Regions from separate parts of the Homo sapiens genome. Here regions 2 and 3 are each linked to region 1. The links come from fine-mapping of genetic effects on gene expression. A gene starts in region 1. Each other region holds a variant in brackets. All regions are shown on one strand. Distances are from middle to middle.

Region 1 (11,004 bases):
TAGAGACGGAGTTTGGCCACGTTGCCCAGGCTGGTCTCAAACTCCTGGCTTCAAGTGATCCGCCCTCCTCAGCCTCCTGAAGTGCTGGAATTACTGGCATGAGCCATCGTGCCTGGCCAAAATGAGAGAATTTTTATACAGGGGAACTACATGGTGGATGGAAGAACTGATAAATTAACCAGGGTGATGAGGGAACCCAGAGTTTTCTTTTTTTTGTTTTTTTTTTTTGAGATTTATTCTTGTTGCCCAGGCTGGAGGGCAATGGCTCAATCTCAGCTCATCGCAACCTCTGCCTCCTGGGTTCAAGCGATTCTCCTGCCTTAGCCTCCCCAGTAGCTGGGATCACAGGCATGCACCACCACGCCTGGCTAATTTTGTATTTTTAGTAGAGATTGGGTTTCTCCACGTTGGTCTAGCTGGTGTCCGACTCCCGACCTTAGGTGATCTGCTCGCCTCGGCCTCCCAAAGTGCTGGGATTACAGGCGTGGGCCACCGTGTCCAGCTGGAAACCCACAGATTCTTAACACTAGGAAGCTACTATCACCCTCCAGCTGAAATTATATCAGAGCCTGGGGATGGTTCTCACCCAGTGGAACCTGGGGCCATGCAGGAGATGCACTTGCTACTAAAACTCTGCCTGAAGCGGACAGAGAGAGGAGCGGAATGGCTTTCACTTGTCTATTCCATCTGTCCAAATTCCTGTTATGCATCCTGATGGCTGAACCCAGCTGGAAGCCCCTGACAAGGCATCCTTGAAAACATGGCCCATGGGGTTCAGCCCTACTGCAAGGTAGAGCAGGACAAGAGAGGGCACCCAAGAGCAAGCAGGCAGATTACCAACAGTTACCTCTGTACAGACATCTAAACAGACCCAGAAAGTGCATCATGCAGATATTTGGGGAAAAAGCTCTCCAGGCAGAGGAAAGAGCAAATGCAAGGCCTGGAGGCAGTAGAGCACCAAGTATAGTCAATGAATAGCAGGAATGCCAGTGTGGCTGGGGTAGAAAGAGGGAGGGGAGAGAGGGAGGGATTGGGAGTCAAAGAATATACAGTTCCTGGGCCAGAATATGAACTGGGGCTTTTTCTCCGAGTGAGGTGAGAGGTCCTGGAAACTTTGTTAGCAGAGAAGTGACAAGATTAGACTTACTCATGCTCCACACTTTGGATCCTGTGTGTAGAACAAATTATTGGAGGGGAAATGCAGGAGTAGGGAAACCAACTAGGAGACCAGTAGAGAGACAATTGTGATAATCCAGGTGAGAAATGGCTTGAATCAGAGAGGTGGAGCTGCAGTGGGTGGAAGTGGTTGGATTCTACACATATTTTGAAGAAAGGACCATCAGAATTTGTTGATGGTTTGGATGAGAGAGAAATAGAGGAGTCAAGGATGATTCCAAGACTTTGGCTCTGAACAAAACCTCTGAACCTCTGGGAAGATATCCTTAACAGAGTTGGGGAAGACTGCTGGAGGGAAGTGTTTGTTTTTTTTTTTTTTGACAGAGTCTTGCTGTGTCGCCAGGCTGGAGTGCAGTGGCGTGATCTCGGCTCACTGCAACCTCTGTCTCCCAGGTTCAAGTGATTTTCCTGCCTCAGCCTTCTGAGTAGCTGCGACTACAGGCACGCGCCACCATGCCTAGCTAATTTTTGTATTTTTAGTAAAGATGGGGTTTCACCATGTTGGCCAGGATGGACTCGATCTCTTGACCTCATGATCCACCTACCTCAGCCTCCCAGAGGGAACCGGTTTTGAGAGGGATATCTGGAGTTCAGGAGGGCACTGGTTTTTGGGGGAATATTTGGAGCTCATCAGTTTTAAACATGTGAAATTTGAAATACCTAGTACATAATCAATTGCAGATGTTGAGTAGCAGATGGATGTACAAATCTGGAGATGGGGGAGATGACTAGCCTGGAGGTGTAAGTTTGGGAGTATTTAATGTATAGATGGTATTTAAAACTATCAGACTGGTGAGCTCACCACAGAGTGAAAAGAGACCATAAAGAGATGTCCAAAGTCTGAGTCCTGGAGCCTCCTATGTTGAGAGGTTCAAGACTAAAAAGACCAGAAAGGTAGGATAAGAACTAGGATAGACTCTTGGCTCAGAAGCCAAGGGAAGAAAACATTTCAAGAACCAGCATGGTTGACCTCTTCCCTGCTGCTGAGGGCTCCAGCCAGGTGAGCTTGGAAGTTGAGCACCAGATTTAGCAATAAGGCAGTCACTGATGCCCCTGAGAAGACCTGTTGCTGTGGAGTAGTGGGGGTGAAAGGCTGCTCAGAGTGGATTCATGGGAAGGGAAGGATAGGAATTGAAGACACCAAGCATGGAAGAGCCTTTTGAAGATTCCAGTTATAAAGTGAAGCAGGGGGAGACATAAAATTTAGGAAGCATTTTAGTTTTTACCACGGCAGATATTCCAGTATGCTTGTAAGCCCTTAGAAGTGAAGCAGTAGAGAAGGAAAATTTGCTGATTCAAGAGAGAGTGGGGACAGTTGCTGAATCAATGTCCCTGAGTTAGAGGTGATGGCACTAATGCACAGACCGAGGCTAATCTTGGCTAAGAGCACCAAGAGTTCATAAATGACAGGAAGGACAGAGGAGTATATGCAGACAGATGCAGGCAGGTTGGTAGACAAGAGTGATAGAGAGGGTATGTGTGTTCAGTTCTCTTCTGATTATTTCTATTTTACCAACAAAAGAGGGAGCAAGGCCATTAGCTAGAAGTACTAGGCAGAGGTTTGATTAAGGAGGAGAAGATGTGAAACAGTCCTTTAAAGAGGAGGGAAGAGCACAGGGAAGTATAGTAGTTTTGCTGTTAATTGATTAACAGAACGTTATAATTATTTATAACAACGTTATAAAGTAGTTGGTGTTTTAAACTTGTAATGAATACTACTATGTAAATGAGAGAAGGGGCATTTGCTAAGGAATCCAGTATTCATGTAAACAGAGTTACATCAATAAGGCTAAAATAATAACACCCTAAAATTAAAACAACATGGGATATCATTTAATCCTGAATAATTTTGAGGGCACTTTGGACCTTTGTAATGATTTAGAGTAATCTTTCTAAATATCACTTAGAATAATGCCCTGCAGATGTACAGCTACTGGAGTTCTGAATAGGCCAGTTAAATCAGATTTTAAATGTAAAACATGCAAATGTGAGTCAGTGTTTATAATATTAAAAAATACATAAAATTTGTATGGTAGGCCTCTGTGTCAAAATTCATTCTATATTTGGTATACACTATACATTAGGGTGTTTTGTTGAGTAGAGGTAAATAACCAGAGGGAAATGAATTCACCTGGGTTTTAACGAAATAAGAAGCAAATAGGGAGGGAACAACATAGCAAATGACTAGATGTTCTTATCACTAGAAAGGTTACATATCCTTTGTGTTGGAGGGCAAAGGCAAGGGGTTGAGCAGAGATGGGTAGAGGAGCCAAGACAGTGGACAGGAAGTGGACTGAGATCTAGTCTGTGCTCTTGGCAAACTCTCCATTCCGCATTTCCCTCTTCTGCTGCCTGACATCTGCTATTTTGAAACCTAGGAAGGTCAGGAAGATACAGCAGGAGTGACTGACCTAGAGAATGTGCAGTTGGAAACTAGGCTTTGGTAGCTTTCACTTTTTATCTCCTTTAGAAACACGGATGAAAGTTCTGCCATCAGTGAGGGATAAATAGTAGCCCAGGGCCTTGAAAAAGCAGTTTTAGATCCCTGGGACAATTTCTACTATTTTACTATGTCTGAAGATTAGGGAGGTTATTTTTGTAATTTGAGGCCAACACCCATCTCTTGAGCCTTATATGAAGCACTGAAGAATGTTAATAGATTTGGCTAGCATTTGGGTCAATTATTTCAAATGGCTATCTGGGAGTCATAAAACAGATGGTCCTGAAATTGTACTGCGTTGGTGGATGTAGATTGGCAGCCATCTTTTAAGGGCAAAATTATGTTAAAAGCTAAGCCAGAACAAATGAGCAACAACTGATTTATAATATTTTGCAATGTTATGAAAAATGGTTCCTTAAAACAGATTCACAGGACTGATGGTGATGTTCCATTGTGTTTCTTTGTGAAAATGTGATATTAAACACACCAGTAAATGAATCTGAGGCCCTCCGTCCTTCCCCTCCTCCCTCCCTCCCTTCCTTCCTTCCACAGATCTAGTCTTCGCTCCTTCCTTCCTTCCTTCCTTCCTTCCTTCCTTCCTTCCTTCCTTCCTTTCCTTCCTCCCTCCCTCCCTCTTTCCTTATAGTTATTTTGGGAGTATGGATGTATTTAGTTTGGGTCTTTGGTTTTAATTAGAGTATTTATTAAATAACAAGGAATCTGCTTTGAGTTAGTGTAAAAGCAAATCATGAACTATAGATTACCTTTGAAATTACTGTAACATGGTCAATATTTTTGTTGTTTTTGTAGTTGGGACAAGATAAATTTTAAAATAAAATTGTCAACATTTAAAGAAAATTGTCAACATATAGCTACTCTTTGTGAAACTGACCTACTATAAGATGAAACTTTTTTTATCATTTGCTGTAAAAGGAAGATTTGTTATTTATTGGAAAATTTTATAGGTCTAAGAGCTCTTATATTAAATTATATATATATATATATATATATATATACTCACACATACATATGTGTATATATATTTAGATGCAGGATCTCACTGTGTTGCTCAGGCTGGAGTGCAGTGGTGTGATCAGAGGTCACTGCAGCCTTTAACTCCTGGGCTCAAGTGATTCTCAAGCCTCGGCCTCCTGAATAGCTGGGACTACAGGTGCATGTCAGTATACCTAGCTAATATTTTTTATTTTTGTAGATACAGGGTCTCTCTATGTTGCCCAGGATAGTCTCAAACTCCTGGCTTCAAGCAGTCTTCCCACCTGGGCCTCCCAAAGTGCTGGGATTATGCATGTGAGCCACCATGCCGGCCAGCTATAGAATTTTAAAGCTGTAATAACCTAACATGTGGGGTACCCCCCACAGATGAAGAATCAGAGAGATTAAATAACTTCTCAAGGAGACTCAATTATTAGTGGCACAGAAAAACGTAAACCCTAGTTTGCTGACTTTGTCTAGTATCACTTAGGTTTCTAATACACAAACTTTCATTGACAGGATTTAAACTTGCAAGTGACTTACAAGTTTTGACTGCCTAGTCCTCATATGCTTAGGTTATGCTTTAGGTTTCTAGTTCTGTGGGACTGAGTTAAATAATGGTTTCCCCATGTTCATGGATAGGAATTTTAAAAATTGAGATATAATCCACATACAATGGTATCTATTTTTACTCATTCATTTTGAAATCTAAAGTTTAACTTCTATTCATAATATCCATTTTACTTAGGCAGTGAGTATATAATAACCCTCACCTCAGAAAAGTTTCTACAGTTAAAAGACACGGGCTGAGGAGAGTTCATCTTCATCCTTACTAGCATTTTGGAGTACGTATAAAGGCGTCTGCGGATGCCTAATGATTAAAAAAAAAGTTCCCCTCACCATGGTGAATAGGGTTTTTACGAGAAAAATATGGAGAAAGCAGAGATTATTACCATTGAAAAAGACAAGGTGTTAACAGAAATGGGAGGGTAGCTTGATAGAGTCCAAACTTGACTGAACTCTCTAGGTTAGGGCCAAAGGCAAGTACTGAGGACAGGCATGGACTGTTGCGTTCAACTTGTCAAAAAAGTGGCCAATATGTAGTATGGACCAAGCCTATAGAGGCGCTGAGAATACAGAGATGAATGAGCCAGTTCCTGAAGGAGCCCAGTCTGCGTGTGTTTGCGAGTTGAGAAGAGGAGGAGGGAGGCAGCATGGGGAGTGTGGGGATGGAGGAATTAGATTGAAAGAGAAGGCCGAAAAACTGAATATATAGTAGAAATTTGGGGTGCAGATATGTGCTGCCTAGAAAGGCAGAAACCTGTCCCAGAACCTCTTAATACATTAGTCTCATTTGCCAAATTTGGCCAGATATCATGACTGTGGTCCTCTCGAGATGCCCTCTTGAATCGGCTTAAAAATTATCCTTCCGCAACCACCCCTAGCTTTCCCCACCGCCAGTGCGCCGGGCAGGTTGAAAACTGCACCCACGTTTGCAGCCTCTGCTCTCCGCAGGAGACAGGAATCCAGGGCTTTGCCGTCGTCATAGCAACCAGAAGTTCCGCGGTCCCCTACCCTCCCGCGACTTTTTCCACTTCCTCCGCCTGCAGGGCCCAGCCGCCGCTTCTCTCGCGAGACTTGTGCGCCGCGCTAAGCCGCTCCGTGGTGATCTCACCCGAGACTTGGGGGAGAGGGAGGAGTGAAGGAGGGGAAGGAATGGGGCGGGAGGCGGGGCGGGGAGGGGAAGGGCGAGTGAGGCGCCGCCACTGCCGGCAACTTTGTGAGCGAGTTCAGTGCGTGCGTGAGCGAGTGAGCGAAAAGTCAGTGCAGCGCCGAGTCCCCGGCTGGAGGGTCCCCGGGGAGGGCCAGGTCTGGGCCCCAGAGGCCGCCCCCGCAGCCACTCCATTCCCTCCCGCCTCTGTGGCTCCCTCCCCATTTCCTCCCCCACCGGTCGTTGGGGCCTTCCCGCCCCCGTCCGCACTTACCTGTCCCCTCCCCCATGCGGTACGCACCTCCTCATCCCCCCCCCGGCAACCTCGCGCCCACCTTGGACCTTCGGAGCCCGGACCCCCGCACTTGCTTCCCGTACTGGCCGCCCCCTCAGTTCTTTCTGCTGGCGGGCGGGATGGGGGCGCTGAGCCTCGGGGACGGCGCGAGCGGGGGCCCGGGCGCCTAGACAATAGTTGATGCCCAAGGACGGGGCCACCTCCGCCTTCCCCTCCTCCGGGAGCTCGGCCCCCGCCGGCCCCCCGCCAGCCTGTATTCCGGGTCCCCCTCGGAGCCAGCCTCGGGAATTGGGCTGATTCCACCCCCGCCTCCCTCGGGCCCCCCTCCGCTCCGCGCTCGGCGCCCGCCTCGGGCCGGCCTCGCCGCTCTCCGCAGAGGAGGCGGCGAGTGAGCGCGCGCCGGCCGTCTACACGGTTTCTCTTTCTCCCCAGGGAGAGCGCGCGGCGGACGCGCCCGGGACGCGCGGCGGCACCGGGAGGCCGGGCCGAGCGGTAAGTGGTCCCCGCGCCCGGGTCCTGGGGGGAGCGGGGGTGCAGGACGGCTGACAGCCCCCTGCCCTGTTTCTGGCCGGGGTTGGGGTCCAGGGCCCGGAGCAGGACCCCAGGAGGCCGGTTAAAGTTTGATTTTCGATTTGGTGGCTTGCTGGTAGCTTAGCCCGGCGGGGGCGAGTCCGGCTTCACCGCGCCCGGCGCGCGCGCACGCACCCCAGAACCCGAATCTGCACAACTACTGGGCAGGCGTCTCTGCGGGAGGCCAGGAGACCCGCGTCCCGGTCCGGGCGGTTGCGTCCACCCCGCTGAGCTGGTCGCCACCTGGCGACCCTTCCCCTCCAGTCACCTGGGTGAGCGCTTTGCAGCCTGAGCTGGAGTAGGCAGGCCGAGTTGGTTGAGTTGTGGGAAATGGAGACGAACAGCTCGGTGCCCGAGGGTGGTTAATTTCCCCTTTGGGGGTCTTGGGGACATGAAATTTTGGGATGCTCTAACCTGCTTTCCGGGGAGCGAGTAAACCGCGAAAGGGCTGGGAAGGCGTGAGGGTGCCGCAAAAAGAACTTTTCCTCCTTCGCCCCATCTGTTACCAGCTTCTCTCCTGACCTTAAAGGAAATTTCCGAGGCTCTTAAATCGCTCCACGGCATTTCTAGGTGGACCAGTAATCGTGTTGGGCAGGTTGAAATTTCATCGCGGTTTGGAGAACAGAGAGACATGGGAAATGGCTCACTTCCAAGGAAGATGTTTAGCTAAATTGTTGGCATTCGTTTTCTAAGAGAAGCATTTGGGGATTGATGGCTCCTAGACTACGATTACCTTATAGATTTTATTTTTCCTGACGGGTAGTTTAGAGGCAGCATTCGCTGAAATGCATACTACCTGTGAAACGATCATGTTTCTAAACTGGAGCCAGCGATGTGATGCAAATTTCAGAATAAAGGTGTCGACTTTCATCAGGTTCCAGGTCTATCTGGATGGACTGGGATTGGCGTTTCCTCTATAAAGCAAACCTTTCATGTTGAAACTCTGAGTCAGACTCTTAAAGCCATTGTCTTTATGCTGGTACTCTGTGGGAGTTAAGTGTCAACTTTCTCCTGTTTTCTCCTATGGAGTATCCGTCCAAGGCAAAGATTCTCTGACTGAATCTTTTGGAAACGTGCAAGGTTAGATCATACTGAATTCTGCAGCCAGTTTAGTAATAATATTAGTTTTCTATATAATCCTGATTTAACGACTGTCATTTTTCTCTTCGTTTTTTGAAAGCTGCAATTAAGCTACCTTTACCAGGATTTAAAAAAGAGGATAATATGGAACAGTGGTAATAACAGTAGGTCTCAGCTAATTTATTATGGCCACCGATGTGTCCAACTATTAGATGACATCCCAGTTATTAACTACAATATTAATATTAAAACATTTTTCCCATGGAATCAATTATGCTAAAGCATTAACAATTAACAGTGCATTTAAAATGATGAGTGATTGTTTCCACATAAATGGTTAGAGGCAAAATAAGAGATTTGGGGGATGAATGGCTTTATGTCTCTGACAACTAATTTTCTTATTAATGCTTAAGTAAAGGACTCTTGAAGTTGACTGTCATTTGATTTTTCTAGTTGACTGAGTGAACAAGTTTGGTGAGTGGCTTGAGACAGTCAGTAGGTGTTGCTGTTGTTAGCTTCTCTGCAGTTCCTGCTTCTGCTCCTCGAGTTTGAAATTGCAATTCTGGTACAGTGAACTTTTAAAATCTGAAGTATCAGTCAGTGATAGTTGTGATTTCATTGGAGGAGTCTATGGCAAGGTTGACTTCAACTCCAGGTAATAATTGCAAAGCACCTCTCTGATACTTTGTACTGAGATTCATTTAACTCTTCTTTTGTCTCTGTCCTTACACTAGTATTTTCAGGCTTCTGCATTTGCTTTGCTTTTGCTTTGAAGTATGTGTGTAATTTTGGTATAGTGCCCCCATCTTCATTGTTTAGGAACTTTTAAAAAACACTTTCTAGTGAGTTTATTGAAGTCATAGATTGAAGATTGCTTGAGATTAGCAGTTTTGTAGACTTCGGGGGGATCTTGGTTGAGTTGTGATGTATATATGTTCTATCTTAAGTTGCAATCTGAATTTTTAGATAAATGACTGTTTTTCTTTTTTTAAAAATCTGTTTGAGCTGTGAAATGGGAGCATGAGGAGAGCTGAAATGGTATGAGAGTGGAATTTGATGGAAAGTTTGTCATGATTAATAATGTGACTATGTGCCTCTTATCAGTCCTTACCGTTGTATTATCATTGTTATTGGTCCGTATCAGTGCACAAATGAAGTATGAATATCCTGAAGATTTTTTGTTGACATCTCAGATTTGAGCCTTTTGGTTCACTGACCATATTAGATTTTCTCTATGGAAGACAAATAGACTCATTCCCATAATAAAGAACTAGAGCGCTGATAGAGCACACTTTTTTTTTTCCCCTTTGGATCAAATCATGGAAGTTCAAATCTGAAAATAAATTCAGAAATTTCTTTTTTTCCCCATAGCATCCCTATATTCCTAACCTTTTGAGTGGTGAGTCAAGCAATATTTATTGAATGCTGCTATCTGGCAGGTGCACTTTTGGTTTCTGTGATTACAGTGATGAGCAAGAGTGTACCTGGCCACATGGAACTTGTAGTCCAGTGGGACCATTTGTAGTAATATTTTCTGGCATGGAGTTATGGTACCCTGATGCCCTCGTAAAGGTTATACATAATAGGCAATTATTTTTGAATTTTAATATATTTTAACATTTTGAAATAATGTAACCTAGAATTTGTCCTCAGAAGGTCTGGGTTTCAAATACCTGCCCTGCCATTTTCGTTGTGAGATATTGAAAAATAATTGAACTTCTTTCTGAACTTTACTGTTGTTTCCTGCGGAGATGGGCTCAAGACTTGCTTCACAGATGAGCTACAAAAATTGATGAGAATACATGTATGAAAGTACTTTGTAAACTATAAAGTCTTATTTGTAATAGGGTTTTCTTACTTTTTGTTGGACAGATTCATGGATTGTTGGAACTAGGAGGGATTTTGACTCATTTGGCTCATGTTTCCCATTTTACGTATGAGGAAACTGAAGCCCAGAAAGTTGAAGTGATTTGTTGAAGGTTATAGAACTGGTTAATGACTAGGCAGTGATTGGAAGACAGGTGTCCATATTTAATTGCACTCGTTTCTTTTCTTTTTTTCCTACCTTAGAGCCTGTTATGTTAAAATTTTACTACTTTCTCCCCCCACTTAAGAGTTCAGTATTTATTAAATATCCAAAATGAGGAGATGCAAAACTTAAGGAAACGAACGATCTGTGGTGAGGTTGTAAAGCTATGAAAACAACATTGGTAACCGAGCTTCATAATTAAATGACAAAGTTACAGAAAAAGAAAATATGAGTTAAAGTTTCTACATAGTAGAGCCTGTAGGCTTTTTTGTTTTGTTTCATTTTTAAAGAAATCTTTATTTGCACAGAGCATAATGTACTCTTTAGCTCTTTAGAAAAGCTAAACTCAGTTTATTTTGGTTCATCTTTTTCTTCTCTTTTTAAACTCATTTCCATTTGCGGAAGAAATTAGGTGTACCATCCTTGTTTCTGGACCATGGCCAACTAAATTTTAGACCTTTTTTCTCAGCGACATGTAAGGGTAACCAGAGATTGGGGCTGGGGGTGTTAGGTGGAGAGATAAAACAGGACATAAAACAGGAACGTGTAGGAGCTTCCTGTTGAAAATGGGACTGATTTATGTTGCGCCACCCTACCTTCCAGTGGAGTAATCTGAGCCAGCAGAGAAGAAACTTCCCTGCTGGTTGGGTGAATGCCCTTGAGGTGAGGGGGTTTCCTTCTTCCGGGAGAGATAAGCATTGTGGTATTCT
Region 2 (11,004 bases), 240 kb after region 1:
TTTAATTTTCTGCATGGCACTTCTAGCCATCTGACGTTTATCTTGTTTATTGATTTGCTTGTTCTCACTCTCCCCTACTAGACTGTAAGCCCCTCAAGAGTGATGGCTTTGATTGCTGTACCCGCCATCCTTTCCCCAGGCTTTAGGACAGTTCACAGAACAAGGGCCAGAAAATATTATTAATTGTAGTAAAGAATAAATGTATCCTAAGCCATTTAATTAAAACTTTGAGATCTTGAAAGTTTTAGCAAGCAAGAACCAGTAAGTGGAAATTAATTGTACCATAGCTATTATTACTACCACAAAAGGTACAGAATATCATTGATATTATCTTCATTTAATAGGTTATACTGATTTTATGTTAGCTAAAATTTTAGGTTTATTTACAAATGTATTTTCCCATACCCTATTTCTTTTTTTTTTTTTTGAGACGGAGTCCCGCTCTTTAGCCCAGGCCGGATTGCAGTGGCACAATCTCGGCTCACTGCAAGCTCCGCCTCCCAGGTTCACGACATTCTCCTGCCTCAGCCTCCCGAGTAGCTGGGACTACAGGCGCCCGCCACCACGCCCGGCTAATTTTTTTTTTTGTATTTTTAGTAGAGACGGGGTTTCACCGTGTTAGCCAAGATGGTCTCGATCTCCTGACCTTGTGATCCGCCCGCCTCGGCCTCCCAGAGTGCTGGGATCCTGTTTCTTTTAAGCTGGTAATTTATTGAATGGTTGAACTTTTCTCCTGCAGCAGCTTTTGAGTTTGTATCCTTAGTATGAAAGTTCAGTCATTCCATACATCAGTCTGTGGGGACTACCGAGTGCCTTGGAGCCTTCCTTCCTTACTTTGACCTAAGGGACTGTCTTTTGGAACTTGAGTGGTTATAAATCTGCACATTTCAGTGTCGAAAGTATTTCTAAACCAGGGTCTCAACCTTAGGACTCTGGCATTTGGGGTCAGATAATTTTGTTGTGAAGGGCTGTGGAATTACATGTTCAGCTGCATCCCCGGCCTCTACCCACGAGATGCCAATAGCGCCTCCTCAGTTCAGATTGCCGATATCTCCAAATGCTGCTTAGTGTCACTCTGGAGGGCAGAGTCTCCCCTGTTGAAATCCACTCTTCTAAGCAATGAATACTTTTTCTTCTATTTCCTTTATACTGAGAGATAATAATTTTTAAAAAATCAGATAGAAATCTGGCTCAGCTTTTTTGGTGGGGTGAATGTAGCAGATTTTTAAAAGCTATTATAAGGAAAGATTGTTCATCTTCCACCATTACTAAGTTATAAGAATCTATTTTCAACTTGTATGTTTCTATAATTCCACAGTACACTTTGTGTTAGGAACCCTAAAATATTCTGGGGGAATTTGTTCTTTCAGTGTTTCTATATTTTTCGCCTGCTCCCATCACCATGGAGCTAAACACTTTGAGACATGTTAAGTTAAAAACAGTAATGACAGAAGAGGAAAAAACATTTTGCTTCTGCATTCTTTTTTCCTCTCTTCTCTTCCTCCTTACCTCAGTCAGCCAAATAGGGTATTAGTTTGAATGTTTTAATTGGATGTCAAGATAGGAAAGGCATGTTTTTCAGAGCTTATTTTTTCTTAGGAAATGCTAACAGTATAATTTGAACAGACCTGTGAATTGATATTCTGAGATAAGGTAAAATATACCAGGAATGTGTAGGGAAGGAGACTTTTTCCTTGGCCTGAACCCATTTTATAGATTTCTGTGCTTCAGAGATCCCATTGTATTGTTTAGGTAGGGCTACTCTACATCATATACAATTCTTTTTTTTTCATATAGAAAACAAATATCAGAATGTATGTAACCTAGTTTTTAGTGTAGAACTGATTGATTCATTGAATAAATGCAATTCTTGTCAGCTTTCTTAAATTGAGACCTTAGCATAGTGTTTTGTATAAAGTAACTAGAGACAGACTATTTTTCAGATTGTGGTTTGTGTTTGAAATTCATGTCCTCATCCAGGTACAGACTTTGAACTTTGGCCTATCTGAATGGAATATTCCGTTCAGTCCTTTCAAATGTAGCAAGAATGAATATAAAATTAGAGAAAAAAGTTTTCTTTCTTAATATTTACGACCTGTAGCATCTTCTGTTAGTTTGTAGGAACATGGTACTGATACGTTATTTCTGTTCAGCAAAGGTAGTTTAGAGATTTTTTTCTGTTTAAGATACAGTATTTTTTTTTCTGAACAAATTAATGTCTTGATATTGAACCTTGGTTTCACTGTGCTCAAACCTTCAAATGTTAATTTAAGGAAGTTTAGATTCCTCATTTCTTTTTAAACAGTATTACTGCTTTCTTTGCACACATGAAGCCATGATATTGAATTTAAAAGCAGATGACCTTAAAATCGTGCAACTTAAACACCACAGACTTAAAAATAAAAAATATAAAGATTTTTAAAGAAGAAAGTTAAAAAAATGTATCTGCTTTTCTGATGTAGGCTGGTGAGAAAAGATGTTCTTTTTCTGTTGCTTTCAGTCTTTAGCTCCCTGTCAGTTCTGCCCCACTGTGAAACCGAAGATGTTCTCAGCATTCTTGAGTAACACTTCCCACAGGTGACCTTCTGTATAAAGAGAGCTTGTTGTTGTTGTTGTTAACTTCTATATTGATAAGAAAAAGATAACAGTTCACAAATTACAACATCCTGTGATTTGATTCTTCATAAAATTTTTTGGTGAGGTTTTGGGAATTTCATTCTTGTTCCCCTGATCTGCTACACTTGGGCTACCACACTTTTTATAATATTTATTGCTATAAACATAGTTTGGGAGCATTTAGGTTGTTTATAGCTCCTTGCTATCCTAAATAATGCTGTGATGAACCCTTTTTTTGCACAGAATTTTGTCTTTTGAATTGTTTCCTTAAAAAATACTCAGGAATAAAATAACTGGGAAAAAAAGTATGTAAGCATTTTAAAGGCTCTCGATACATATTCCTAATTTAAAAAAAAAACAACAATTTCACTCTTCCAGTAGCTAATGAGCACATTTTATAAAAATTAATACCTCTTATTTTTCTTAAAGCATACTTAAGGGCCCTACGATTTTCAGATTGTAAATAAGCATTGGCTTCAACTTTAAGTCTCCAGCTGCATTAGCCCCTAATAAGAGAGTCAGACTGTTCTTTGAACCTTTGAAGCCAGGCATTGACTTCTCCTCTGTAGCTATGAAAGTCCTGGATGACATTTTCTTCTAAGAGAAGGCTGTTTCATCTATACTGAAAATCTGTTGTTTATTGTAGTCACCTTATCAATCATTTTAGCTAGATCTTCTGGATAACTTGCTGGTGAGCTTGCACTTTCATGTTATGGAGACAGCTTCCTTCCCGAAACCTGATGAACCAATGTCTGCTGGCTTCTAACTCTTCTTCTGAGTTTCTTCACCTCTCTCAGCCTTCATAGAATTGAAGAGAGTTAGGGCCTTGCTCTGGATTAGGCTTTGGTTTAAGAGAATGTTGTGGCTGATTTGATCTTCTTTCTCTCCAGAACACTAAAACTTTCCATCTCAGCAGTAAGGCTGTTTTGCTTTCTTATCATTTATGTGTTCACTGCAGTAGTACTTTTAATTTTCTTCAAAAACTTTTCCTTTGCATTCACAACTTGGCTAACTGGTACAATCCTAGCTTTCAGCCTCTCAACTTTCAAATGTCTTCCTCACTAAGCTTAATCATTTCTAGCTTTTGATTTAAAATGAGACACCTGTGACTCTTCCTTTCACTTTCAAGTTTCGCTTGAACTTAGAGGCCATTCTAATTTCAGTGTTGTGGTCTCAGAGACTAGAGAGCCCAAAGAGAGGGAGGCAGATGGGGAATGGCTGGTGGGTGGAGCAGTCAGAACTCAAACGACATTTGTTGATTGTTTGACATTTGTTGATTGATTGCCGTCTTCTGTGAGTGCAGTTTGTGGCATTCCCCAAAAGATTAGTAGTAACATCAAAGATCACAGATTAGAAATCACCAAAACAGATGTAATAATATGACAAAGTTTGACATATTGTGGGAATTACCAAAATGTGACACAGAGACAGGAAGTGAGCACATGCTGTTGGAAAAATAGCACTGACAGACTTGCTCAATGCAGGGTTGCCTCACACCTTCAATTTGTAAAAAAAACACCTGCAAAGTGCAATAAAGTGAAGTGCCATAAAATGAGGTGTGCCTGTATTGTATTT[A/G]TTGAACAGAAACATTTTTCAAATGTTTAACCAATTTTTTCTTTTGTGAATTGCCTACTGTTTCAGAAAAACTCTCAAACCGTGTCTTTCCTCTGCTTTCATACCACCATGACAATCATCAACACAGAAAACACTTCTGTGACAAAAGCTGTGGGTTTTTTTCTCCACATGCCAAACAGCGTACACTGGCTGGATGTTCTCAATTCAGTTCCAACACTATCCACCCTAAGATAGTGTCAGATTCCACAGGTTGGGGGCTCAGTCCCCAAGACTGCCCCTTACATCTTTGGACATCATTGGTAAATCCAGGCCTCCAGACTTCTGACTGACCAACTTTAAGTTGGTGTTCCCACAACCCCATGTTTGGGTTTAATTAATTTGCTGGAGCAGCTTACAGAACTCAGGGAAACATGTTTACTGATTTATTTAAAAGGATATTACAAAGGATTCAGATGAAGCGTTGTGTAGGGCAAGGTATCAGGGAAGGAGCACGGAGCTTCCGTGCCCTCCTTTGGCGTGCCACCTTCCAAGAACTTCTACATGTTCACCTCTCCAGAAGCTCTTCAAACCTGGTCCTTTGGGTTTTTATACAAGGAGGTTTTATTACATGGCCTGGTTGACAACCGTGTAGAAATGTGATTGGACAAAAAGCACATTATCTAAATCCAGCAAGGCCTGTCTATTCAGACTTTTCTTGGCCTTTCTGTGTAGCTTTCCTTCCCGTAGGATATGGAGCAGGACTCTCTGGAATGAGTGTCTTTTGATCCACAATCAGATTAGAGCCCTGCCTTGGGCAGGTGAAAGGACAGGAGGTCAGAGAGAGAGAGATTCTGTTTCCTGAGGCCTAAAGTACCCCAGCATTATAACAAGGACTGTGGGAGTTAGGAGCTAGGAACTGTGGACAAAAACCAATATAGCTATCATAACACCATACCCATTAATACTTCTTTTCCCATTTTTCTTTTGGAATCTTAGTATTTTATCTTCCTTCACAAATCTTTGCATATATTCAGTGTATTCAGTCTGCGTTGTATTTATGGTATTTTTTAAACTAGTATTTGGTTTGCCTTTTAATGTACAGATGTTTAAAAGTTTCATGTACCCAAATCTGTCAATGTTTTCTTTTGTGATTTCTTTCATTAGTTTTGCTCATGGAAAATGTTTCCCCATTAGATATCACATTTTTTCCCTGATATTTTATTAATTTCAAACTAAGTCCTTACCACCCATTAATTTCATAAGAAAAGAAATCCACTATTTGAGAATTAGGAGCACTTTGCTGCTGATCATGGTTACTACAGGTTGTATTTTTGTAGTTCTCTGCACAAAGGGGCCACTTGCACTAATTGTTAACTTTTGGCTTTGATGTGGTACTTGAGATGTGAGTGCCTGTTTAATTCTGTGTTAATCTGTGGTTCTGTTACATTTGGATCGTTGCGAAAGTACCTTATTGAATACAAATATGAAAATGAACAAAGTAAAATAAAATTAAACTAGTCATGATTGACTCCTATGTGAGTTCATACTTTAAGAGGCCCAGAAATTGTGACTCTTTTCAGATGTAACTGATATAAAAAAACCTACCTTACTTTCCTGTGATAGTTATGGATTGTAGCATTAGGCTCAAGTTGACTGCCAACATAGTTTATGGTGATAACTGCTATATTTCTAATTTGTACAAGTTCAATTTTTTAGAAATATATAAATCCATTGAAGTGAAAATGCTTCCAATTTGCTGGAAAATGAATATTGCTAACTTACATCGTAGGTAATTATTAAGTGTTGGTTTGTGATACTTAAATCAGTTGTCTCATGATTTTTACACCAAAAACTCACTTTTAGAAGTAATATTCTTGTTGGCATTCCAGGTGACATAGGTAAAAAAATATTTTATTGAATTTAAAGCCTAAGTATGTAGTGATACTCTTACATCATATGTTTGTTTATTGTCTGTCTCTCAAAGTAAATATAAACATTTTTAGGGCAGTATTTTCAGCATGTAGAATGATGCCTCAAATATTTATGGAATAATGGATATTTGTTGAGTGAATATCAGGGCACGGACTTAAAATTATAGGAAAAAGAAATACTTCTGCTTGAGTACCTAGAATTTACCAGCCATTGTATGAGATGTTTGGTGATCTCATGACTATATAGAGAGCATTGTTTTTCTAAAGATGAACCTGGGTTTACCTTTGCCATTAATTTTCTGGATAACATCAAGAGTGATAGGTTTTTAGGAGACAGTAGGAAACTACAGACAGTGGAGAGCTCCATCATGTTTCAAGGTAGATTTCTCTCCTGGGAGAAGGTTACTAAAGAGCCTTAGCTAACCACTCTCTCTGTTTTCACTTGGCTGTAACCAGAACTGTAATCAGAAATGGCGTGGAAGGCTGGTGAAAGCCGTGGTTGCTGTTGAACGGGCATATGTGCACTTAGGTAGTTTGCTGATGTAGGTTTAGTTTGTGAATCTAGATAATCTGGGAGTCTCTTTTTAATTTCCTGAAGCATTTTGTTTTTGTTTTTTTAGAGACAGGATTTGCTCTGTCACCCAGGCTGAAGTACAGTGGCACAGTCATGGCTCACTATATACTCAAACCTCCAGGGTCAACCAAGTCTCCTACCTGAGCCTCCTAAATAGCTGAGACTACAGGTGCACGCCGCTACACTTGGCTAAGTTTCTTATTTTTTGTAGAGACACGGTCTTGCTGTATTGCCAAGGCTGATCTCAAGCTCCTGGCCTCAAGTGATCCTCCTGCATTGACCTCCCAAAATGTTGGGATTACTGGTGTAAGCCAGGGCACTTGGCCTTGCCGAAGCATTTTGATGCATGCAAACTAGCAGCAGATGTCAACATTTTCATTTTCTACTCAATCGTAATTTCAGCTTTACTTTTTTTTTTTTTTTTCTTGAGATGGAGTCACACTCTTATCTCCCAGGCTGGAGTGCAGTGGCGCTATCTCAGCTCATTGCAACCTCCGCCTCCCTGGTTCAAGCGATTCTACTACCTCAGCCTCCCGAGTACCTGGGATTACAGGCATGCGCCACCAGACCCAGCTAATTTTTGTATTTTTAGTAGAGAGGTGGTTTCGCCATGTTGGCCAGGCTGGTCTTGAACTCCTGACCTCAGGTGATCTGCCCGCCTCGGCCTCCCAAAGTGCTGAGATTATAGTCTTGAACCACTGTGCCCAGCCTCAGCTTTACTTTTTGTAGAGAAAGGCATCAAAAGGAAGTTTTTCCAACTTTTCTTAATAATAGGTACTTTTTATAGATTTTCCCCTGCCCAGTGGCATTGGACTCTCCCAGAAAAATTTTATGCCAGGATTGTTGTAAAATATTGTCAAGCATTCATGATTTTATCATTTATGGTGGTAAGGGTCTCATAGAGATGTTATGTGAAACACTGTAACATTTTCTTTACCTGCCAAATAAGTATAGAGTAATAAAAAGAACAATTGTTTTTAAAGCCAAAAGATTTTGACCTGGTTCCTGATTTATCATGAGTATGCTTTTAACCTGATCTATGGTTGTGAACAGAATAAAAACTTTTCTGCATTTTTTCTACGAAATTAAAATGTAATTCTTAAAATTTCCAAAAGCATGTTTTCTAACTATTGAAAAAATAAGTTTATTCCCATTCAAAGTAGAATTATATAAACTTTTTTTTTTTTGTATAAAGTTTCACTTCATGTTACTGAACTGGACTTGACATGGAAAACTTGTCCTTGAATAATCATTGAAAAATAGGCTGGGGGAGTGAGACTTTTTCATTAACACACTAAATTTATGCTCCATATGTAAGATATTTGTATATTTTTTAGTGGACTCTGATTATTGTAACTGAATTTAAAGATGCATCTTAAGACCCTACTGTAATCTACCTACCATTAATGTGTTCATTCGTTTCTTCATTCTACTTGCAAACTTCTGTTTAAACTTTATCTTTGATCAAAATATTGTCTACTTTTAGTAAAAATTAAATTGTTAAGTATTTGTGAATAAAATTCATATTTACCTATTCAGATTTACTTGTGTCAGGAATGCAGTCATCTGCAAGCATTAGAAAACCTCTCTAGTAGCATAAGCAAAAGGAAATTAATTCTCCCACATAAAAAGTAGCCCCAGAAATCAACAGTCCAGGGCTGTTACACATGTTCAGTGATGCCACAAGAGACCCTGGAGCTTTTTCCTTGATTGTGTTGGTATCTTTCCTCATGCTAGTCTTATGAATGATAAGATGGCTGTTGCTCTTCTAGGTACCATGTACTCCAGGAGGAAGAAGGGGGAGTAAGAAGGTAGCAGGTAAAGGCTAGGTGAATCAGTCCCTTTTTATCAGGAAAGCTAAAGAGTGTTGCAGGCTTCTGTTTACTTTTCATTAGTCCTGATTTAGGACTAATCTGTTCCTGACTAGTTACCCCTAAACCAGTCCATGGCCACAGGGCAAAAGAGTCCATTAGAAAATTTAGAAAATTCCTGATGTATCTTCTAGGACACACCAAGGTGTCCCACACCCACCTGAACAACTTGAGAATCTGTTGTTAGTAAAGAATTGGGAGAACAGTATGGGTTAGTTAATGGACTGTGTCTTCCATACCTGCTGGAGTGAGGACAGTATGTATTAGATAAACTTAGAAGCCCTGTGCATTTTGACTTCTTGATTCTTGGTCTTCTGGAATAAATTAGGGATTTTTTTTCAGGTTCTTCAGATATTCTTCTGTAGTCATACATATCCTGTCATTGTAGGGGATGATTTAGATATTAGGATAGCAAATACTGTGTTTTAGAGACTTCCTTGTTATTAAGTATATGATGAAATGGGAATTGAGTCATAACACTCTAAAATTGAAATTTGAAAGCTATTTAATGAATTTATGCTTTCTAAAAAGAGTTCTTTTTAGTAGCTCTCTAGAAGATTAATTTTGTTTTATTTGTAATTAAAATGGCTTGAAGATTCATTTTCAAAAAACATGGGCAATGATCATCATATATATACATTTATATTCCACTTTTTAGGCTTACCATATCATAAAATTTTTCCCATGTAGTATAGTACTTTAAAAATTGCTTTGGTGTCACAATGTACTTAATCATTTCCCAGTTATACATTTAGTTCCATTTTGTGCTGCCATTAGCAATGCTATAATTCCATCTTTATATAGGTTATTTTTAATGTTGTATATTACTTTCTTTAGATTCTTCATATTTTAATGTCTTTTGAAACATTTAGCTGATCGCAATCCAATAGCATTGTACAATCCAATAGCATTAATTCGCAGTGCCCACCAGCAAGATATAAAAATAAAAGTTTTTCTGTCAATTTCCCCAGCATTGATTATTGGCAATTAAAAATTTTTTTGTTAATTAACAAGTGAAGAATTACTTTGAATTTCTTTTATGGTAGTAAGGCTAAATATTTTCTTTCTTTTTGAGATGGAGTTTCATTCACTCTTGTTGCCCAGGCTGGAGTGCAATGGCATGGTCTCGGCTCACTGCAAACTCCTCCTCCTGGGTTCAAGCCATTCTCCTGCCTCAGCCTCCCAAGTAGCTGGGATTACAGGCATGTGCCACCACGCCCAGCTAATTTTGTATTTTTAGTAGAGACGGAGTTTCACCATGTTGGTCAGGCTGGTCTCAAATTCCTGATCTCAGGTGATCTGCCTGCCTCAGCCTCCCAAAGTGCTGGGATTACTGGCGTGAGCCACCATGCCCGGCCCAGGCTAAATATTTCCTACTTATTTTTTTTCCTCTTGTAAATGGCATTCTTCTGTTCTTGATTAGTCTGTTACTTTCTTAAGTAACACAGTATATTTTTTCACGTTGTAAAATGATACATTCTTGGTGTAGAATATTTGTTAGCCATAGACGTCACCTCACAAAGATCTATTAATATTTTTTCTGAACAATTTGTGTAAACTTTTAATGTAAGTAATTATATATTTTATTCATAATATATATACTATATTGTCTCAATCTATGTGCCTGATAGTGCATTAGACTCTTGGGGATACTATGGTCAGTATAACAAGTATCATATCTATGACATCAGAAAAAAAATGATACTTTTGTTTATTTTTCCCTAATATTTGTATCATTTCATTTTAGGACATAGTAAATTACCCAGTCTTTATAATAATAATAATTTTTTGTTGTTTAAAATAAGTGTGTTTATCAAAAATAGAACCCATAAGAAACTTCATGTAGAATTTTATTATTAAATGCTTACTTTGTGTCTGTTAAATGATTTTTACACTTTTTTCATGTTTTAGTTATATGGATTATTAACAGATTTACTAATATTGCCTAAAACTTCATTTGTGTACATCAATAATGTATCCAAAGTTGCTATTAAAGTGTTCAGCACATAATAAATGCTCAATTAATAGAATAGCTTTTTCAGTAACTTGCATGTTAAGATTGGCATCCTATTTAACCCAGAATTCGTTGGATAACCTGCTGGTTTTTATTTCATGTTTTGTTATTTGTATTTTTTTCCATGTGTATGGAACATATAATGTGTGACTTCTTAATTTAATCAGGAAATTAAAATCTCAGCTCACTGCAACTTCCACTCCCGGGTTCAAGCAATTCTCCTGCCTCAGCCTCCCAAGTAGCTGGGATTACAGGCACCTGCCACCACACCCGGCTAATTTTTTGTATTTTTAGTAGAGGTGGGGTTTTGCCATGTTGGTGAGGCTGGTCTTGAGCTCCTGACCTCAAGTGATCCGCCCGCCTCGGCTTCCCAAAGTGCTAGGATTACAGGCGTGGCCCCCTTTCTTGCTTTATTATTGTTCATAGCACTTTGTAGCATGTCAA
Region 3 (11,004 bases), 170 kb before region 1:
CATGTACCTCTGCATCCCAAACAAATAGCTACTGTGCATTCCTGTAAGTCCTCTGGTTGAGAATCTGTAAACAGACTCATTGGTAAAGTCTTTCTTGGAAGCTGACCACATGACATGGGAATGTTCGTAGAAGATGCACGTAGTCACCATGAGGAGGGGAAAGAACCCAGTCATCCTATTGTTTTAGACAGGGCTTAACAAAAATGTCTATATAACAAAGCCTGCAAAAATTTAGAAGTGAAACATTTGTGGTTTGAGTTTTTGCGTCAAGGTCCACCACACTTCCTGACAAGTCAGCTCCTTGTCTGGGTAGCCCTTGGATATCAGATCTTCAGGAGAAGCTACTGCCTCTTCAGGTCTGCAGGTTTCCAAATATCAAATTTCTAAAGCATACAATGCCCACAGTTTCACCACTTCCTTTGGTGTCAATGCATTTCATTTTGAGCAATGGCAAGAAAGGCCCCTATGAAATCTTGCTACCACCACCAACAGGAAACATAGCAATCTGTAGCTATAGTCCCCTCATCTGGAGACTGGCCTTGGTAGGCTCACTTCATGCCTTCCTTGCTGGGTTTTGGAAGATGTTGCAATTAACACAAGGAAAGAAGGCAAGCTCTTACCCCTCCTTCCCCTTCACTCAGTAGCAGCATGGTGGTTGCAGAAATAAAGCACTCAGTTGTTCTTTCTGCTTGCAATTGTTCAGATGCAAGGGGAAAAAGTAAAAACTGAAGCTTGCTATGACCTCTGTCTTAAACCATTTTGTGCAGCTATAAAAATTGCTGGGTAATTAATAAAGAACAGAAATTTATTTCTCACAGTTCTGGAGGCTGGGAAGTCCAAGATCAAGGTGCCAGCAGGCTTGGTGTCTGGAGAGGGCCACCCCCAGGATGGTACCTTACACATTACATCTTCCGGAGCAGGGGCAATCACTGTTCCTTACAGGACAGAAATGCAGAACAGAGGGAACCCACATCCACAAGCCCTTTTTAGACTGGCTTTAATCCACTCATGCTCCACCCTCATGACCTGAACACCTCCCAGTAAACCCCACCACCCAATGCTGTTGCATTGGGGATTAAGTTTCCAACACGTGAGTTTTGGAGGGAACAAAAACATTCTGACCATAGCAGCCTCTCCCCAACTTTTACAAGAAGGCTGGCATCTGACGCATTTCATAGCCTGAGTATAAGATGAGGTAACGGAGGGCCCACATCACCTACATCCTGTAAAGCCTGAGGCTCACCAAACCACACAGGGGAGTATGAACACAGAGGACACCTCCCACTGTTGTTCTCTTGTCTCCTGACTCAAACAGCCCCTTCCTTTCAGCCCAAGACATTGAGCCATCCGGGGCTTGCTGTGGTATGATACAAAATAAATATTTGGTCTTTGTCCCTGGTTCCTGACACAGCGCCTCAAAATCCTTGGAACTGATAGTCCTGTATGCTAATGAGATGAGTCATGGAGAGGCCCTAGATAGCTTCAGGATGGGGGCTGGTCACTAGAAAAATCAACCATGTGATTAGAGGATTAGAACTTTCAGCCCCACCTCCTCACTTCTGACCTTCAAGGAGAGGAAAGGGATTGGAGATAAAGTCCAATCACTAAATGACCAATGATTTCATCAATCATGCCTGCATAATTCAGACCTTGAGCAAGAAAGAGGTCAAAGCCTGAGTTACTACCTTTAGTGAGCTTAATTTCCACGTAGGAAAGTAAGAGAAGCACAGCAGCAAAGCTGTGTTTAAAATCCCCGCCCCCGCCCTCCCACTCCCTGCAAAAACACTCCTAAATGAAGTCAGATAAAAATCTCCCAAAAAAATCCTAAGTGAAATCAGATGCAGTGGCTGAAACGTAATTCCAGCTACTGGGGAGACTGAGGTGGGAGGATTGCTTAAGCCCAGGAATTTGAGGCCAGCCTGGGAAACATAGAGAGACCCTATATCTTTAAAAAATTTTGTTTTAATAAAAACAAGAATAAAACCTAAATGACAGGGATTCAGAGAACTTCTGGGTTGAGAAAAACATTGCTTTAAGAGGCCAAGGTGAGAGAATCACCTGAGGCCAGGAGTTCAGGACCAGCCTCTAAGAGACGGGGGGGTCTCACTCTATTGCCCAGGCTGGAGTGCAGTGGCACAATCTCAGCTCACTGCAGCCTTGACCTCCTGGGCTCAGGTGATCCTCCTACCTCAGCCTCCTGAGTAGCTGAGACCACAGGCATGTGCCACCATGCCCAGCTAACTTTTTTTATTTTTAGTGGAGATAAGCTTTCACTGTGTTGCCCAGACTGATCTCAAACTCCTGGTCTTAAGCAATCCTCCCACCTAAGCCTCCCAAAGTGCTGGGATTACAGGCGTGACCCACTGTGCCCAGCCCCTCAAACAAATTTTTTTTGTTTAGCCACATAGTGGCATGTGCCTGTAGTCTCAGCTACTTGGAAGGCTGAGGCCGGAGCATTGCTTGAGCCCAGGACGTCGAGGCTACAGTGAGCTACAATTTCATCACTGCACTCCAGCCTGGGTGACGGTGTGAGACCCTGTTTAAAAAATAAAAGAAAGACATTGATGCGCTTCAAGGATGGTGCATCTGAAAGACAGAGCCCCAGGACGGTGGTGGCTGCCACCCTCCCTATGCAGCTCTTCCATTTGGTTGTTCCTGAATTGTATCCTTTATAATTAATGGGCAAATGTTAATTAATACGTTTTCCTGAGTTTTATGAGCTGTGAATTATCAAAACTGAGGAAGGGGTTGTAGAAACTCCCAAATGTATAGTCAGAAGTATGGGCGGCTTCTTGGACTTGTGGCTGGCATCTGAAGCAGGGGCAGTCTGGGACGGAGCCTTGAACATGCACTGTTGGCTCTAACTCCAGGAGTTAGAACTGAATTGACTGTTGGATTCCTGTTGATGTCAGAGTCACGGGTCACGAGTGTGGAACACTCTCCACACACTTGGTATCAGAAGTGTCAGAAAAAAGACACTACACCTGTTTTCTCACCAAACAGTGGAAATGCTAAACTATAAGCTATTTCCACTGCATTTTTTTCCCCTCTTGCAATTCCACTCTTCCAGGAAGCTTGGGTGATCAGCCTAGAGTGTTACCTACACTCGCCAACAGAGTCAGCTGAGTTGACGCTCTGGGCATGACAGTTCTTTATTGTGGGGCTGTCATATGTGTGCCATTTTCAGCAGCATCTTTGACCTCTACCCACTAGATGCCGGTAGCAATAAGTCCCTGGCTGCCTCAACAAAATGTGGTCATTCCCTTACGACAAAAACTAGACCTTACAAAAAAGGGTAGTCGAGCCTGAGGCCTGAGACCTGGGTCTAGTCCAGGCTCAGCCCAAGCTCTCTCTGTGACTTTGGGCAGGGCTACCAAGCCTCTTGGTGTCCTCAACTGAACAATGGAAAAGTCAGACCAGATCAACCTGAGTTCCGTTCAGCAACAACGTGCTACACTGCTGTGTTTGCCTTACCTTCCTATGTGGAAATTAAGCCCAGTAGAGCTAGTAACTCAGGCTTTGACCTCTTTCTTGCTCTGTCAAGGCCTGAACTCCTGTCTTTTCCAATGATTTGACCCTGAGTCTCCCATTTCCTTTCACAGAATGAGGCCTGCTGGAGCCGACAGGGGATCTGTGTTGGGGATAGATGCTGCTGACAACCTGAAAAAGAATCCACCCTATGGCTCTGAAATTAACAGTGTTCAGCAGTCTTGTGGGCAGAGTGAGAGCACCTGCCCTCTGGAGCTGTCCTGGGGAGCCCCAGACCAGAGGAGTGAGGAGTGCCCTCTGTTGCAGGTGGGGGTGGCGGGACGGGAGTGTGGAGATCCAGAGTGGCCACCAGGCCATTGCTCAACCTAGTTCCTGCTCAGTCCCTCTGGGGCTGGCAGACTTCACAGTCCAGCTTGCTCTGGGGAGACCATATTCCGAAGGCGGCAGCATCCACCACCGTCCTGGGGCTCTGTCTTTCAAAGAGAAGCCTCTGTCCTTTTCAAAGACAGAACACCTGTGCTTGGCAGGCAAGAATAACATTGAGGGTGGGAAATCCCACTCTCCAAAATATTATAAAACAGAAAGTATGAAGGAATTAAAGTCCATTGAAAAAGTATCCTGAGACCGGGTGCAGTGTAGATGCCTGCAATTCTAGCACTTTGGGAGGCTGAGACAGGAGGATTGCTTGAGGCCATAAGTTTGAGACCAGCCTGGGCAACAAAAATGAGACCCAGTCTCTACAAAAAAATTTCAAAATTAGCCAAGCATGGTAGCTCGTGCTTGTAGTCCCAGCTACTCAGGAGGCTGAGGTGGGAGGATTGCTTGAGCCCAGGAGTTCAAGGTTACAGTGAGCTATGATTGTGCACTGCATTCCAGCCTGGGGAGCAGACTGAGTGGGTGGCCCTGTAGCAAAAAATAGAAAAGAAAAGAAAAGGTATCCTGGACTACCAGGAATGATGGTAATAATGATGCTAGCACTTATTAAGAATTTAATAGATGCCCTGAACTCAGCTCAGTGCTTTACATGAATTATCTCATTTAATTCAGGACACAATTGGAGATAGTTATGCTTTTTACCCCCATTTTACAGATTGGGAAACTGAAGTTACAGTGTTCTTCAAAGTCTTTCAACTAATAAGGTCTAATGATTTTATCCTGGAAGCACACATGGAAATTTTCTTGTTCTCTAGTCTTGGTAGGTAAAATTTGGGATATCTTGGCAGGTGTGACCTAAGTTATCACAAAGCATGTCCAATTATTGGGAAAGAAGATGATGTTAGTTACTGGGTGGTGGTGGTGGGAGGGGTGGTCTAGCTAATGACTGGCATTTTAAACTAGAATCATTAAGATCCATTATTAATCTTCATTTCATTCATTTTTATCTATTTATCCTTCTATTCATTAATTCAATCAATAAAAACTTATTTGTGGGCGGCAAGCCACCCAGGTGCCAAGGCAGGAGACTGAGGGTATGAGCTGTTCCAGTATAATAAAATATATAAAATAAGAATAGTTATAGTAGATATAGATCTTAGATATGATTATATATGAATAACAATCATTAATTTGTAGCAATAATTCTTTATTCCAATATTATAATAATCCTTGCTCTACAATCATAACCTAGGAAAAACCAGGCCACACAGAGATAGGAACTGAGGGGACATAGTGAGAAGTGACCAGAAGACAAGAGTGTGAGCCTTCTGTTATGCCCAGACAGGGTCACCAGAGGGCTCCTTGGTCTAGCGGTAACGCCAGCATCTGGGAAGACACCCGTTGCCAAGCGGACCGTGGTCTAGCGGTAGCATCAGTGTCAAGGAAAAACATCTGCTACTTAGCAGACTGGGAAAGGGAGTCTCCCTTTCCCTGGGGGAGTTTAGAGAAGACTCTACTCCTCCACCTCTTGTGGAGGGCCTGACATCAGTCAGGCCCGCCTGCAGTTATCCAGAGGCCTAACAGTCTCCCTGTGATGCTGTGCTTCAGTGGTCATGCTCCTAGTCCACCTTCATGTTCCATCCTGTACACCTGGCTCTGCCTTTTAGATAGCAGTAGCAAATTAGTGAAACTACTAAAAGTCTCTGATAAGCAGAAATAATGGCATAAGCTGTCTCTCTCTCTCCTCTCTCTCTCTCTGCCTCGGCTGCCAGGCAGGGAAGGGCCCCCTGTCCAGTGGACATGTGACCCACGTGACCTTACCTATCATTGGAGATGGCTCACACTCCTTACCCTGCCCCTTTGTCTTGTATCCAATAAATATCAGCGCAGCCTGGCATTTGGGGCCACTACTGATCTCTGCGTCTTGGTGGTAGTGGTCCCCCAGGTCCAGCTGTCTTTTCTTTTACCTCTTTGTCTTGTGTCTTTATTTCTACACTCTCTCGTCTCTGCACATGGGAAGAAAGCCCATCAACCCTGTGGGACTGGACCCTACACTTATTGATAACTCAGTGTATGTCATGGATTGTGCTAATGGCTAGGGATGCAAAAAAGAGTCATACTCCATCCCCATCCTCAAGACATTCCTGGTCCAGTGCTGCCGGCAATAGTCAGAGGCCAAAGTCCCATAAGAAAGTGGCCTTCTGGCCCACTGACTTCTTCCCCAGGTC[C/A]GCCTAGAAATCTAACTGGGTTCAAGTCAGGCAAAACATGTACAACTTTATGATTTCTTGTCTGATGGAAATCCCCTGGACTTTTCCCTTTTTGTATTGGATGGATTTTAGTTCTCCTGGACATGCCAAAGCGGGTACGTGGCACCCCACAGCCATGAAGCCTTGGGCCCCTGCACCTGGTGCTTAGGTTCAGGGAGCCTCAGGAAGTCTTTCTCCTGACCTGACTCTCTTGTCTTAGGACACAATCTATGGGAAACTTCTCCCACAATACAAAGCCCAAACGCAAGAGAAGGGGCCAGCCTAAACCCAGCCTGGAGACATCAGCGTAGGGATCCACTGGGCACATACTGTCCTTGAGGTTTAGCCACCTGGCAACATGCTGGGCTGCTGCCGCCCTCCTCTTCTCCCCAGCCAGCCCTCACCAGGGTCTACAGGAAGTGGTTGCTCCCATAAGCTGTGTAGGCAGATGTTCCTGTGAGTGCTTCTCTCTGTCTCAGAAAAGGGAGTCAGGGCAGGAGATGTTCCTGCCATGCCTTCCAAATGGCAGATTTCCCTGCTGTTTCAATGAGGTCTCATGGCTTTCTGGATGTCAACTCTTCTCTCCTATACTCTAAGAAGTACAGAGATGGGCCAGTACTCTAAGAATCCAGACACTATTGTAAAATTCTCCCTACTTCCATTCAGCCAGGGAGCTCCTGGTCTGTTCCTTTGAGTTCTTGTTCCCTCAGTTCTTCTCTGGAAAGGCTGCCTCTGCCTGGATAGACCAGGCCCAAGATGCGTAGATGAATCAGACACATCCCTGCCCTTGAGGGCTGTCACAGGTCTCAGTGAAGACCTACAATAGAGCAGGGAATTGAGAAGGCTTGGAGGGAGGCAGGAGTAGGGTAGGAAACAATACAAAGGGAGGGAAGAGAAGGTGATGCTGGAGGTGCACCAGGAAGGAAATGGCAGTGATATGGTTTGGATCTGTGTCCCCATCCAAACTCATGTTCAATTGTAATGCCCAGTGTGAGGCTTGATGGGAAGTGATTGGATCATGGGGGCAGAATTCTCATGAATGGTTTAGCACCATCACCCCCCCTTGGTACTGTATAGCAAGTGAGTTCTCACGAGATCTGGTTGTTTAAAAGTGTGCAGCACCTGCCCCCCGACTTCCTCCTGCTTCATCCATGTAAGACGTGTCGGCTTCCCCTTCACCTTCCGCCATGATTCTAAGTTTCCTGAGGCCTCCCCAGAAGCAGAAGCCACTGTGCTTCCTGTATAACCTGTAGAACTGTGAGCCAATGAAACCTCTTTTCTTTATAAATTATCAGTCTCAGTTATTTCTTTATAGTCATGCGAGAACGAACTAATACAGTGTTGGGAACAGGCCCCCAAATCTGGCCATAAACTGGCCCCAAAACTGGCCATAAACAAAATCTTTGCAGCACCATGACATGTTCATGATGGCCATGATGCCCACGCTGAAGGTTGTGGGTTTACCAGAATGAGAGCAAGGAACACCTGGCCAACCCAGGGCAGAAAACTGCTTAAAGGTGTTCCTGAACCACAAACAATAGCATGAGCAATCTGTGCCTTAAGGACATGTTCCTGTTGCAGGCCCATCCCTTTATTTCGGCCCATCCCTTTATTTTCTGTAAGGAACGCTTTTAGTTAATCTACAATCCATAGAAATAACGCTTATCACTGGCTTGCTGTCAATAAATATGTGGGTAAATCTCTGTTCGAGGATCTCAGCTCTGAAGGCTGTGAGACCCCTGATTTCCCACTCCACATGCTATATTTCTGTGAGTGTGTATCTTTAATTCCTCTAGCACCACTGGGTTAGGGTCCCCATGACTGAGCTGGTCTTGGCAATACAGAAAATTGTTACTGAGAAATGGGACATTGCTATAAAAATGCCTGAAAATGTGGAAGCGGATTTGGAACTGGATAATGGGCAGAGGCTGGAAGAGTGTGGAGGGCTCAGAAGAAGACAAGAAAATGAGGGAAAAATTGGAACTTCCTAGAAATTTGTTGAATGGTTGTGACCAATATGCTGATAGTCATATGGACAGTGAAGTTCAGGCTGAGGAGGTCTCAGATGGAGATGAGGAACTTATTGGGAACTGGAGCAAAGGTCACCTTTGTTATGCATTAGTAAAGAGGTTGCCTGCATTATGCCTCTGCCCTATGGATCTGTGGAACTTTGAACTGGAGAATGATGATTTATGGATCTGGCTGAATAATTTTTCTAAGCAGCAAATTGTTCAACAAGTGGTCTGGCTGCTTCTAACAACCTATGCTCATGTGCACGAGCAAAGAAATAACTTGAAGCTGGAATTTATATTTAAAAGGGAAGCAGAGCATAAAAGTTTGGAAAATTTTCAGCCTGGCCATGTGGTAGAAAAGAAAAGCCCATTTCCAAAGGAACAGTTCAAGCCAGATGCAAAAATTCGCATTACTAAAAGGAAAGCAAGAGCGAATAGCCAAGGCAATGGGGAAAGGGCCTCCAAGGCATTTCACAGACCTTCATGGCAGCCCCTTCCATCACAGGCCCGAAGGCCTAGGAGGACAGAACGGTTTGGTGTGCCAGGCCCAGGGCCCTGCCACCATGAGCGGCCTGAAGACACTGTTCCCTGCATCCTGGCTGCTTTAGCTCCAGCCTTAGCTCAAAGCAGCCCAGGTACAGCTCAGGCTGCTGCTTCAGAAGGTGCAAGCTATGAGCCTTCACAGCTTCCACATGGTCTTAAGTCTGTGGGTACTCAGAGTGCTAGAGTTGAGGTTTGGGACCCTCCACCGAGATTTCAGAGGATGTATGGAAAAGCCTGAATGTCCAGGCAAAAGCCTGCTGCAGGGGCAGAGCCCTCACTGAGAATTTCTACTAGGGCAGTGCAGAGGGGAAAGGTGGGGTTGGAGCCCCCACACAGAATCCCCACTGGGGCACTGCCTACTGGAGCTGTGAGAAGAGGGCCACCATCCTCCAGACCCCAGAATGGTAGATCCACTGACAACTTACACCATGCACCTAGAAAAGCAATGTGCACTCAACAACAGTTAATGAGAGCAGCCACAGGGGCTATTCCCTGCAAAGCCATAGGGCTGGAGCTGCCCAAGATCTTGGGAACCACTCCTTGCATCCAGTGTGCCCTGGATATGGGACATGGAGTCAAAGGAGATTATTTTGGAGCTTAAGATTTAATGACTGCCCTGCTGGGTTTCAGACTTGCATGTGGCCTGCAGCCCCTTTCTTTTGGCTTATTTCTCCCTTTTGGAATGGGAGTATTTACCCGATGCTTGTACCTTCATTGTATCTTGGGAATAACTAACTTTTTTTTTTAATTTTACAGGCTCATAGGTGGAAGGGACTAGCTTTATCTCAGATAAGACTCGGACTTTGTGCTTTTGAGTTAATGCTGGACACAGTTAAGACTTTGGGGACCATTGAGAAGGGATGATTCTGTTTTGGAATGTGAGAACATGAGATTTGGGAGGGGTCAGGGACAGAATCATATGGTTTGGATCTGTGTCCCCATCCAAATCTCATATTCAATTGTAATCCCCTACGTTGGAAGTGGAGCCTGGTGGGAGGTGATTGGATGGATCATGAGGGCAAAGTTCTCATGAATGGTTTAGCAGCATCCCCACCTTGGTACTGTATAGTGAGTGAGTTCTCATGAGATCTGGTTGTTTAAAAGTGTGTAGCACCTCCCTGCTATCTCTCTTCCTCCTGCTTAATCCACATAAAATGTGGCTGCTACCCTTTCACCTTCCGCCATGATTCTAAGTTTCCTGAGTCTTCCCCAGAAGCAGAAGCTGCTTTGCTTCCTGTTTAATTGGGTAATTTATAAAGAAAAGAGGTTTAATTGGCTCACAGCCCTGCCAATTAAACCTCTTTTCTTTATAAATTACCTAGTCTCAGGAATTTCTCTATGGCAATGTGGGAATGGGCTAATACAGGTGGCTAGAATATTCTCCAAGGGGAGGAACACCTGGGAACAGCAATGAGAACGGTGAGAAGCCTGGTGTAGCTACAGGAGGTGTAAGAAATTCACCCAGGCCGCTGGGGTTAAGCTCTGAGAGTTGTGGCTCACTGGTCCCTCTCAACTCGGACTCCCCCATCTGTAAGATGGGGATCCTCCAGATTAGGGTTGTGGTTGTGATGGTTAAGTGGGTCAGTACATGAAAAGGACAGAACAGTTCCTGGATGGGTGTAAGCACTATGCATGTGTTAGCTGGTGTTATGACTCTTATCCTCATGTCATGCCCAAAGATGTCAAGACTCAGCAATACATATTTTCTGAATGAATTTGTAAATGAGGCCTAGTTACATCAGTATAAATGTGTGTACTTCATAGACCTGCGAGCTGCAGGGGTATTGGAAAGAAGTCTTAACAATTAAAAAATAATAGGTATAATTTTTGGAGTTTCTACTATATACAAAGCATACATTTACATTTACTTCTTCTCTCTCACCAAAGATAAAAAGCTGATGATTATTCTCAATATAAAGATGAGGAAATTGAAGCTCAAAGACCTCTTCTTTTGGTCAGGATGCTGTTCTCTGCCTAGAATATAGGCTACTGATGATCATGCTACAAATTTTATTCTGAAAGGCAATTTTCTCTACTGGTTTTAGACATAATACAACTAAAGGAAAAAAGTGTTTTTGAAGATGCTTACAAGTTGGTCAGGCTTGGTAGCCATTCAATGAGAAAAGCAGAAAAAGACCTCACAGCTACCTCTGTCTTAAGAAGGAGTTCATGAGTCCAACTACCTGAGGTCAGAGCTGATGATCATAATTTATCGATGCTTCAGTGGGCCCAGGTGGACCTGGCCATGGAGGCCGATCTGCCTGTCTGGGCCCTCATGTTCCTGTTCAGTACACATACAGGTGGTGATAGGGAGGTGGAAACCCTGGCAAGGCAGATAA

The links. PIP is the estimated chance that this variant, and not a neighbour inherited with it, causes the effect.
Region 2: its variant is fine-mapped to the expression of SIPA1L1 in whole blood (TOPMed, PIP above 0.99).
Region 3: its variant is fine-mapped to the expression of SIPA1L1 in whole blood (TOPMed, PIP above 0.99).

The regions. Positions count from the first base shown.
Region 1 is chr14:71,314,075-71,325,078 of GRCh38, forward strand. It overlaps SIPA1L1 (signal induced proliferation associated 1 like 1), which reads left to right and starts at 6,402. Exons shown (of 24, transcript NM_001386936.1): 1 at 6,402-6,429; 2 at 7,048-7,107. It overlaps SIPA1L1-AS1 (SIPA1L1 antisense RNA 1), which reads right to left and starts at 7,774. Exons shown (of 4, transcript NR_184180.1): 1 at 7,600-7,774. RefSeq lists enhancers at 5,881-6,040, 10,728-11,004 and a silencer at 6,301-7,320.
Region 2 is chr14:71,551,983-71,562,986 of GRCh38, forward strand. The region is part of intron 4 of SIPA1L1 (signal induced proliferation associated 1 like 1); the gene reads left to right. Among named protein-coding and RNA genes, the nearest start is that of SNORD56B, 160 kb to the left of the region's middle. RefSeq lists enhancers at 3,191-3,250, 3,411-3,470, 3,581-3,640 and a silencer at 4,061-4,160. The variant A/G (reference allele first, on the strand shown) is at 4,192.
Region 3 is chr14:71,142,303-71,153,306 of GRCh38, forward strand. No RefSeq gene overlaps it. Among named protein-coding and RNA genes, the nearest start is that of SIPA1L1, 170 kb to the right of the region's middle. The variant C/A (reference allele first, on the strand shown) is at 6,093.